2 linked regions of the Homo sapiens genome follow. The protein of the gene in region 2 interacts with the protein of the main gene of each other region in a biochemical or structural test. Each region holds a gene or a part of one and is shown on either strand. Other genes may lie near its edges.

Evidence for each region. The genes of interacting proteins can lie anywhere in the genome.
Region 1: the proteins of UBE2D1 (region 2) and UBE3A form a complex in vitro, tested with the Homo sapiens proteins (12 studies listed by BioGRID, with this or other methods).

What each region holds. Positions count from the first base shown.
Region 1 is NC_000015.10:25,428,979-25,436,024, forward strand, and holds part of UBE3A (ubiquitin-protein ligase E3A), read right to left. Parts: intron 1-7,046. UniProt on the Homo sapiens protein: E3 ubiquitin-protein ligase which accepts ubiquitin from an E2 ubiquitin-conjugating enzyme in the form of a thioester and transfers it to its substrates.
Region 2 is NC_000010.11:58,366,006-58,371,248, reverse strand, and holds the end of UBE2D1 (ubiquitin-conjugating enzyme E2 D1), read right to left. Parts: intron 3,327-5,243; coding exon 3,233-3,326; intron 2,530-3,232; coding exon 2,484-2,529; 3' UTR 501-2,483; downstream 1-500.

The DNA of each region.
Region 1 (7,046 bases), on a different chromosome or scaffold from region 2:
ACATACATTTTATCTATGCATAAAATGAAGTGCCATACAGCAGTGAAACTGAATAAACTACATGTACACGCATCAACATATACACCTCAAAAACTTGATACTGAGTTTAAAAAAATCAAGCTATTGAAAGACAGCGTTATACATGTCTGTAAAAATTTAATACAAAAACCAACACCACATATCACTTACAGATACATGTACACATGTATAGTAAAAGTATAAAACAAGGATGTGAAATTTACTTAAGAATCTCAAGACAGTTGTTACTTTGTGTAGAGACGGGTAACAGGACTTGAACAGTTGGGGTTGTTAAAAGTGATTATATAACTGCATCCTTTCCCCCAAGGGATAAAAATGGACATAATTTATATTTCCAGGTGGTGGATAAATAGGCACTTGCTATGTCATTTTCTGGATGTTTTAAAAATTTTACAATTAAAACATATACACTTATTTTAAAAACAAACAAAAGACATATTAGCATATAATGTCCAAGCTGATAATTACCTTGGAAGATTATCTAATATAAACCTCCCTACTTCACTAAAAACAAAATTACAAAAGATATCAGAATAAAAATATGATACAGGCTGGACGCAGTGGCTCATGTCTATAATCCCAGCACTTTGGGACGCCAAGGCAGGAGGATCACTTGAGCCCAGGAGTCAAGACCAGGCTGGGTAATATAGTGAAACTTCATCTCTACAAAAACAAACAAACAAACATTTTTTTAAGAATGTAATAGGATTGGTGTGGTGGCTCATGCCTGTAATCCCAGTGCTTTCAGAGGTTGAGGCAGGCAGATCACCTGAGGTTAGGAGTTTGAAACCAGCATGGCCAACATGGTGAAACCCTGTATCTACTAAAAATACAAAAATTAGCCGGGCGTGGTAGTGCACACCTGTAGTCTCTGCTACTCAGGAGGCTGAGGCAGGAGAATCACTTGAACCCAGGAGGCGGAGGCTGCAGTGAGCTAAGACTGCACCATTGCACACCAGCCTGGGCAACAGGGCGAGACTACATCTCAGGAGGAAAAACAAAAAAAAACCTATATATATATATATATATATATTTATATGTATTATATATATATAATACATATATATAAGATTATATATATATTATATATATAATACATATATATAAGATTATATATATATTATATATATAATACATATATATAAGATTATATATATATTATATATATAATACATATATATAAGATTATATATATATTATATATATAATACATATATATAAGATTATATATATATTATATATATAATACATATATAAGATTATATATATAATATATATAATACATATATATAAGATTATATATATATTATATATATAATACATATATATAAGATAAATACTATTGTAGCAGGGCAATTTTGGACAAATACTAGGTTATCTGAAACAGCACTTTGGGGAATTAGATCTTGACCATTTAAGAGAGAGATTAGCCCCAGTTTCTCAAAATCTGGCACTGACTAGCAATATGGACAATGTGTGCACCGCCCTCGTTCCACCTCCCCTCCTAGGAATGCCATGTCAAATTCAGCACAGGCATAGGCAGTAAAACTGACCCCTAGTTCTGCCTATCACTATTTAAAATTACTTTAAGTGTTGAGGACTGTCCCCACAGCAGATATCTAAAAGTAGGCCTGAAAGAACTAGAAAGTAGTTCATGCATCCAGCAGTTACAAGTGCCTAAAACTGTACATGAAAAAACAAAACAAAGAAATGAACTGAGAGCAAACATTTACTGTTTTCTTATAATCTTCAATCCAGGATTTAAGAAATTATTTAATATCAGTTGAGATACGTGACCAACCCATTCTCCAGCTGAGATCCATCTATTTTTAAATTCACTCCCCCAGCCTTTCATTCAGCCTAAAAGAGGGAATAAGAATGGGAAGGTGGGAAGGACTTATCCCATACTGAGTTAAATAAGACCACAAGATCTTTTCATTTTTACAATATTTGAAATACAGTACACTGAGCAATAAATTTAAAGAAATATGCATGATTTGAAATGCAGAAATCTTGATTTATGTGTATAAAAGACCAAAATTAGCTCAGTTCGTCTAATACACTACACTTAAGTGTTCTTCAATACTACAGTCAACTTTTCAGAAATATTCCCATTCTGTGAAGCAGGATGTATTCCTACCTTGATTACCAAACTTTATCCACGTAACTTCCTATTCTCCCACTCTGTTCTTTAAACATGTTCAACATGTTACAGAGATGGCAAAATGTGTTACAAAAGGGAATGAGAATGAAGCAGCTTAAGTAATTAGGAAAACTTTACACTTCTTAGAAACTGAATTTGAATGATCTTAAACAGCATATTTTCTTTTCTTTTCTTTTCTTTTTTGAGATGAAATCTTGCTTGCCCAGGCTGGAGTGCAATGGTGTGATCTCAGCTCACTGCAACCTCTGCCTCCCAGGTTCAAGCGATTCTCGTGCCTCAGCCTCCCAAGTAACTGGGATTACAGACGTGTGCCACCACGCCTAGCTAATTTTTGTATTTTTAGTAGAGACAGGGTTTCACCATGTTGGCCAGGCTGGTCTCGAACTCCTGACCTCAGGTGATCCGTGTGCCTCGGCCTCCCAAAGTGCTGGGATTACAGGAGTGAGCCAAGGCGCCCAGCCTAAACAGCATATTTTCAATCACCAACACACAACATGACCACTGACTTCAGAAAACTAGGAAAGAAAAATGTTACCCAATTAATCTTTGTGTGAAACAGGATTTATCCATTAGTATACGTATCACATACCATAGATGCACAAAAGATTTTTTCAATTCCCAAAACAAAAACTTAAAATATTTAGCAAAGATAATATAAAAATCCTTATTTATGGCACGCTGTAAGATTATCAATATTGGTGCATATAACCACAGAGGCACAATAGAATTCTTAGGAAAAATGTATTAAGACAATTAACAAGCTGGAAATAACCCATATTTCCCCTTATGACCCATTAGCTTTATATAGAAAACACTGCTGTGCACTTCATCCTTTGCTTTCTAAAGAACAGCATTATGGTTCACATCTGTTAAGAGACAAAAAAGTATTTGTTGGAAGTACGAAAGGAAGAAATTCCTGTACTGTTACATGCAGTGCCAAAGGAATCATCTGAGAAGAAAATAAAGAACATGAGTTTAACATGAGCTTTAGAGAGGGATTACAAGAGTGCAAGAAAGTGACAAAATGTGACATATGTCCATAGTGAATACATGGTGCTTTATTGTTTTCAGTATTTCTATATTTAATTAGGAGGTGGAAAGTTTCAGAATTTATTCTGCATCACAAAGATTATAAAAATATATGAGTTGGGGTGTTGGCTACAGTACACAAAGGCAATTCTAAGACTACTTATTAACAGAAGCTTGAAATGGAAAAGCCATCCCTTCTGATTTCATTACATGAAAAGAACCTGTGTAGAAGTACAGCAATGGTAGCATCTTCATTCAGCCCACAGCTATGTAATTTGTATGCAAGAGTGCTTGTCTTAAATATGAAAAGGAACATCCTGAATTGCTGAAAGTATATACAACGGGCACACATCCAGAACTAGGAAAGAGCTACCAAGCCTGCATGCTACGAAGACATGGGTCAAAAAATTTTTCTCATGTTTGGTTTCTATAACTAAAGTCTGTGCTAGACTAACCTCAATTGATCCTGAGGAGATGAACTTCTGGAACACACAAAACTGTTAAGAGTCACAGCATTAGACTCTACACTGTCCAGCCAACAGTTTTAAGAAAAATTTTATCCTACTTGTATGAGTGTTCAGGGCTCATATACTACCTCTATGCTCTTACTTGAAACACAGATGCAGACCTTAATAAATAAAGTCTTACATCAGACTCTCTTCTATAATTCACATGTGATTCCTTACACGAGATTCCTGTTCAGATTTCCTGAAAATGAACTATAGGAATAATCTTATCCAATATGATTCTATGTCCCCTAAAAATATCTTTTCCTTTCAGGTCAATCTTATGATTCACTTGCCATTGATCAGATTAACACAACAGGTCTGGTACAGCAAATTACAAAAGAGATTTGACTTTTGATTAATACACTGAATAATGTATCACAAACTATTAAGATCCATTGTCCATGTCAAATGGAGTTCACATATTTAAAATGAATTCACACACTAAAAATTCCCCAAAACAACGTTTCTAAAAAGTTTTTTTTTTTTTCTTTGAGAGGCAGTCTCACTCTGTCGCCAGGCAGTAGCATGATCTTGGCTCACTGCAACCTCCGCCTCCCGTGTTCAAGCGTTTCCCCTGCCTCAGCCTCCTGAGTAGTTGGGACTACAGGCATGCGCCACCACGTCCGGCTAATTTTTTTTTTGTATTTTAGTAGAGATGAGGTTTCACCGTGTTGGCCAGGATGGTCTCGATCTCCTGATCTCGTGATCCGCCCGCCTCGGCTTCCCAAAGTGCTGGGATGACAGGCGTGAGCCATGGCACTTGGCCTCTAAAAAGCTCTTAATCTACATTTTCAAGAATGATCACGTTTGAAAAGCATACTCTTTTAAAACAAAGCAACTATCACTTTCATTTGACAAAAGAAGGAACGAAGGCTTCAAAAGCTAAATAACCTGCTCATGACCATTACGAAGCTAGTTAAAACAACCTCAAGACCAAAAGACAGTGCTCATTCCATTTCAATGACTCTGATGCACTTAAAATTTTATAAATAATTTTTAGGGATATCAGTCATAAGGCTTAGAATCAAATAGTAACGACTCATGTACAAAGACCAGTATTTTTTAAAAATGCTCAGCTGGGCATGGTAGCTCACACCTGTAATCCTAGCACCTTGGGAGGCCAAGCCGCTTGAGACCAGGAGTTTGAAACCAACCTGAACACGGCAAGACCCCATCTCCACAAAAAAATTAAAAAATAAAAAAATTAGCCAGGCATGGTGGCATATGCTAATCCCACCTACTCAGGAGGGTGAGATGGGAGGATCACTCCAGCCTGAGACTGCAATGAGTTATGACAGCACCACTGCACTCCAACTTGGGCAACACAGCGAGACCCTGTCTCTAAACAAATAAACAATAAGTAAAATAAACAAAAAGAAAATGCTAACTTTACTTCACTCTCAGATAGGCCTAATAATTAATAAGCTTCTTTTTGAATTATTATCCATAATGGCATTTACCTGTTATTGATAACTCAGATCAAAGCACTACTAAGCAACATTTTTGATAGCAAATGAAAACAAAAGCTGGCAAAGAAACTGTGTATTAATAAGTCATTTGATTAAAAAAAAGGACTTGGCCAGGTATTGTGGCTCATGCCTGTAATCCCAACACACTGGGAAGCTAAAGTAAAAGCTGAGGAGTTCAAGACCAGCCTGGGCAACACAGTGAGACCCCCATCTCTATAAAACAAAAATTTTTAATATTATCTTTTTACAAAGGACTTATTTATATGGCATCTTCAAGTATTTCAAACATTTCGTGTTTGGATTATGGAATATGTCTCCAGAAGAATTAACACTATTTCTATTTAAGGTAATTTTACATCATTTCCTTTATTAGAAGAAATAACAGATCTGCAGATGGCATTTTGTGAAGGCTGCCTTCTATTAATAGTGTACAAAACACTCATATGTCTCCAAAAAGGTGGGTGAGTAATCACAAAGCAAGTATAACTATTCATCCCAAAAGGTAGGACAGAACATGTGCCAATGTGTGCAGAGTCCTGAACTAGAGACATGGACTCTGGTTCTGGTTCTGACACCTGGGTGACTTTAAGAAAATCATTTTAAAGCTTTGCACTCCAATTTCCTCTTGTATAAAATGACTGGAGCAGCTGACCTCATAGACAATCCTACTCAGGTAGCATCTATCCATGTACTGCCAGAAGACAGAATGATAATCATGCCCCCCAAAATTAGAGTATTTGAAGACAACTGCCGGAGTAAAAATTTTAAATTCTATATACATACACACACACACACACACACACACACACACACACACACACACACACACACAAATACTAATACACTACGTGCCAGATACTGGGGTGGTGGGCTGGGACCAAGGAATGAAGTAATGCATGTGCCAGAGGGTTGAACTTTTTAAAAGGAGTAAAAAAGTAAATCTTTACAGTAGCAGCTGGTGGGTAGGAGGTATTGAGTCCATAGAACTGCTCTTAGATTGGAAGGGCATGGGAAAATGAAGTTCCATTATGTGATAGGGTTTTACACACACACACACACACACACACACACAAATGTGAGAAAGTCACTCAACTATAAGCATTCAAAAAAGACAGACATCTTTCTTGTCTTTGTGGGTCCTGTACTTAGCTCAGCTCATAGAAGCCACAGGAGGAACCTAATAAATGTTAGTTGATCATTTACTGATTTACCAATAACCAATTCATGCCTGCTCTAGTGCTGTGGTCTGAATGTGTCCCCCAAAATTCATGTTGAAAGCCTAACCTCCAAGGTGATAGTATTAAGAGGTGGGGCCTTTGGGAAGCTTTGCCATCATTAATGGAATTAATGCCTCTATAAAAGAGGCCCTATAGAGCCCCGTCTACTCTTCTACTACATGAGGTAATGGTGAAAAGACAGCTAGCTATCTATGAACAAGGGAAGAGGGCCCTCACTAAGATGTCAAATTTGTTGGTACCTTGATCTTGGACTTCTCAGCCCCCAGAACCGTGAGAAATAAACTTCTGTTGTTTATAAGCCATGCTGTCTGTGGTGTTTTGTAATAGCAGCCAGAACAGACTAAGACATCTAGTAACACATTCTCTGGTAAACACTAGGAATTCCTGGCCTTAAAAAGTTCATAGCTAATGAGAAAAGAAATAAACAACATAAAGGATAACATGCTGTAGTCCACTACATACAAGGTGCTTCCAGACCATTCAGAAAAACTGGATAGGAAGATTTCTAAGGTAATACTTATTGAGTGCCTACGTGTTAGGCGTTTTACATACTTTAAGCCTCACAACTCTGGGGAAGTTTCACCAACCCATTTTACAG
Region 2 (5,243 bases):
GAAACAGGGAAATAATGCAAAAATTAATAAATAAGGTTGACGGAGGCATATATGTAAAGCTTGTACTTCAGGAATTGTACGCTTTTGAGATAGTTGGAGGATGGTGGTGAGGCTGCCCCTTACAACCCATGTCACTGATGTGGGTAACTGCTGTATATGGCAGTTATAAGCGTTCAGAATCCAATTTGAACATGGTTTTCAACTATGCAACTTCAAGAAGTGGGATCCTAAATCCCCAAAAGACTACCTATTTCTCTCACTCCAAGGAAGTCCTTAAATTAATGCTTAATCCACAAAAGGCCCTGACTTTTATTCTACAGTTTTAAAAGGTAACTGATGTTCTCCTTGTTAGAGTTAAGCAAAAATAATATACCCAAAATGGTGTTCTGACCGATCATGACGCCACTATGGAACTCAAGGTTTTTAGCTAATTATGAGAACTTCTGCTTACTCCTCAAGTCCAGTACAATCCAGATGTAAGCAAAGGCAAACAAGTTAGGCAAGTTTCAAAAACTTTAATAAAGAAAAAAAAGAAGACACTTCCAAAAATAAATGCCACACAAATGAAAGTTGTTTTTTTTTTTTGTTTAAAGTGAAGATATTCAAGAAACAAAACCCTTTACTATCAAAATATACTAAATATTTAAATCTAGTGATGTTGAGTGTTCAAATTCAGGGCAAATGTAGCTTATAATAATATAGCTAAGTAGAATTTTTCATGATATGGCTGTTTTAAGACATCATTTTATAGATTTACTTTTTAAGCCTATATTTTCTTAAACATCCATTTCACAATTCATTTAATTATTTTACATTCATTTATAAAAACACATATTTTCTAACAATAGGTTATTTTGTGCTTTAATAATAATGAACCATGACAAAATACTCAAGTGATTTAAATGCTTTGCTAATGACTACACCCATCACATATTCTTACATACTTCTACAGCTACTGCAATAATCAGAAGGGCTACAACTGTTCTTAAAAATGACACTCACTCAAGGTTGACAAGCATGCTAAACATTAAAGAGATGTATTTTTCCCCAAGTTAAAACATTAAAACTTTCTAGTTTTCTTTAAAATCTATAAAGATAACCTGCTTATTTAAATCACTTTTCGATGGCAACTTATAAAAACAGAGGGAGGCATAATTTTAGAACTTCCTTTGTAACTTCTATAGTAAAAAAAAAAAAAAAGTTTTTCAAATTGTGATGGCATTAAATTCCATTTTAGAAATTCTAGATTTTAAAATGTTAAGAAATGTAATGTCAATTACATCAGGGTGGGGGCATTTTAATGAATTAATCTAGTGACTGTGCAGGTCTATAAAGACCTTTCTTTTGGATGGGTGATACTGCCTTATACTCATTTCAGTACTTTTAACAAATAATCCATTTAGATATAATCCAAGACAAACCCCAAATTACTCTAAATTCTCCTCTACAGCAAGGGATCAACATATATTATCTTATAGACTGACAATTTAGTAAAGAGATACTAACCTAAAACAATAAAATTTATATAACTAATGGTGACTAATGGCAAACAAAATAGATCTGATTTTCACAATTTGGATGTAATTTTCATGCAAAATTTTAGAGTTTTGATCCTTACTTATATTTTTATTTTTTTAAGTAATCAAGACAAATAGTAGAAAAAGCATTTTATTTATATGGAAAAAGCTACAGTAAGATCTGTAAAAGGTGTCAATATAATATTGCCTATACAGGAAAAAATTCAAATGTGAATAGCAACAAATAAAAGTTACACATCTTCCTACTTAGCAGTGCAATTAATTCACATTGCAATAAAGTTAAGTCAAGTATAACAAAATCAAAACAAGTGTTTCTCCATAATCAGTATGCTGAGAATTACAGTGTAAAGATCATTTCAGATTTAAGAAATCTGCAATCAATCTACAGAATATCCTAAGACAAGGGAGACACAGTTAATTCACTTAATTATCAGCCGTTGGGGTTTTTCAATACTGTTCACAGGAAAAAAGTAATGAGTTGACATACATGTAAATAGAATATATTTAGTCTATACAGTAAAAAAATACAAATTATAAAGTGAGCTAACAAAGAATGAAATCTGAATACAGATTTATAAAACTGACATCTTAGACAACACATACAGTATTTCTCATGTAAAAACATCTAGTTTCAGCAAAAAATAATTTGGTTGCTTTTCAGCTGCATTGTAGATCTTGTAAGCTGAAGATGCAGATGTCCAAGTATCTTAAAAACCATAATAAATGTCTTTCTCAATGCATACAAAATGATAAATGCTCTCATCACAGTCTTAAGGGTATTTTTGGAAGTTTGTTTTGTCTTGCTTCAGAAACACATTTAAAATGGGTAAAAATCAAATGGTTTCATGGTACAATGAAACAGTAAACAGTGCTCAATTTACTGCTAATGTTGAAAAAAACCTAGATTTTACAGTACTCTGGTATATATGAAAATGTTTTTGATTTTTACATTGCATATTTCTGAGTCCATTCTCTTGCATGTCTGTTGTATCTGTAGATACACAAAAAGGATATAGTAAAAACATACAAAATTAATATTTCAGAAGCATCTGTCTAATAAAACTATATATTCTACCTTCTTATACTTAATTGCAATAATCACACATATATCAATTACTGGGTCAATGTGACTTAGGTTCATGCAGAAATAAAACAGGAAAAATAATTTTTTAACTCATGGATTTCTCTGCAACCTATATGAAAATGTATCCAAATACACAAAAATCAAAATGCAGAAACCAGCTTCTAACAGAAATTTACAAAAGCCAATCCTGAAGGAGCATTATCTACAAATTGCAAATGAACCTACAGTACTAGCAAGATGAAGCAGCTTGAGAATTAGGTCAGTTTGGATGGGTACGAGAGAACTCCTCTTCCTTGGAGAAGATAAGCAATATATATTTAATACTTTCCAATGATTAAATTCTTTCATTTTTAATTTATCACCTAGAATATATACATCTATTTTTCAAATACAGAGTATATACTATTGAACAGTAAGTGGGAAGGAACAAGATTTATCATAAAAGGTCTAACAGAGTTCTCAAAGAAAGGTTTACTCCATTGGAAAAAGATAAACAATATACATATAACAACCATAATCAAATTGACTTAAAACATATTGATAATATTCGTGTTTTGGCATACTATATAGGAATGTATCCATACAGAAACTAAAATAAGTAAACACTTACTTTTCTTTGTCTGATTTATAGATTTGTGCAATATCTGGTACTAAGGGGTCATCTGGATTAGGATCACAAAGTAGAGAACATATGGACAATAAAACTAGATTTAAAAGAGAACATCACATTAGACAATAACCCTTCTACTTCATACAAATTACATATGTGAAAATAATTTTAGTGAATATAGATACTGTACTTATAAAAAAAACATAAAATGAACACATCAAATTATATTTTATTCTACTTTGGTTGATAGCAAATTGATCTTTAATTTTTAAAGTTATAAAATTACCATAGGATGCATAAAATATAAAATTATTTTAGCTTTTGAAGTTTTAAATTCCGAGTTCCCATTTATTTAAAAAAATGTGACCCTCCAAAGTAGCTATTAACAACCTTTAAACTTGAGAGTTCTCTACAGAACAATCAAATTACAGTTAACAGTCCAAACCATTTTGGATACTGTGCTCATACACTCTTTTGCTTTGGCTTAGAGCTATAGTCTGTCTACAAAGAAGAAAAATTTGTAAAATTTTTTTCAATGAATCTTTACTTAATGTAGTTTATTTGTATTGCATGCATTTAAAAATAATGTGAACAGCTATCTTTATATAGCTTGCATATTTTAAAAAAGAAATGAAAATTGAAAAAGTAGTTGTTACTCCAGTATGTCAAAATTCTAATGCAAATAGCTACACTAACACACACACACACACACACTAACGATCTAAGTATCTGAAATAAGAGGGAACAAGGACTCTGGTTCCTCATTTGTCTGCTTCAATTGCATGCCACCACTTCTGAGGAGGTTCATGGAACCTCTGGACCAACCTCCCATTTCCACTTGCACCCACCCCACTGCGTTTCCTTTCTATTTTCGTACTCTTTCAAGTCCAAAGGTGGATTTATAGAGCAGAGTTGACTCTTACAATGACAGGCAAAGGGTGGGGGGGTGTTATGAACTAAAGAAAAAATTAGTATTTTATTCATCTTTCTTATCTTCTATCTGCCCAATGAAACTTAAAAGCCTTGTATATTAAACCAACAGGGCAGATTTTCAGGGCTAACTTACAGCCCCAGAATGCTTCCAGACTAACCTCATGATAAAAAGCAAAAGAAGACATTTAAAATATGGAAAAGCTCCAGGCAATGGTGGTATGTGCCTATAATGCCAGCTACTTGGGAGGCTGAGGTGGAAGAATCCTTGAGCTTAGGAGTTCGAGACCAGCCTGGGCAACACAGCAACTGCATCTCAAAAAATAAAAAAATAAAAATAATAAGCTGGGCAAGGTTGCTCACACCTATAATCCCAGCACTTTGGGAGACCAAGGCAGGAGGATCACTTGAGGCCAGGAGTTTGAGACCAGCCTGGGCAACACAGCAAGACTCTGTCTATATTTAATTAAAAAACAATCTTTTAAGATAAACAAATTAAAAATTTAAAAAAATATAGCAAAGTAAAAAATATACAAACAAATGAGCAAGGTATGATCTATCTTATAAAAAAGTAAGCAAGAAGGAAGTTCCTCCTCTGCTCACCCCTACTGCCAGGAGCCATTTGCCCCAGTTTCACTATCATGCACACAAACCATGTCTATCCTTTAAGGTAAGGAAAAGGGTAACAGTTAACATTCATGTAAGTGCCCACTATGTGCTAGGTACATAGCAACCCTGTATGGTAACACTATAAGAATCCCCATTTTACTTATAAGGAAACTGAGGCTGTTTCATTTCTCACAGGATGGTTTCCAGAATCTAACACTACTGATTCTTTATAAAAGGCTACCAATGTCAGAATATAAGTACTCAATATCTGGCAGTTTGCCATTTCTTTTATATGTATAAGGACTTGGCAGTTTATATGCCAAGTGAGATCCATTTTGTGACACCATTCCAGGAAACAGCGTATGAACTTGAATTAACCCTTCAACACAGAATCTTTCATATATCTAATGCATGACAGTTACACTGTGTGAAAGATTCTTAAAAGAATATGAGAATCTATATGAATACTGTA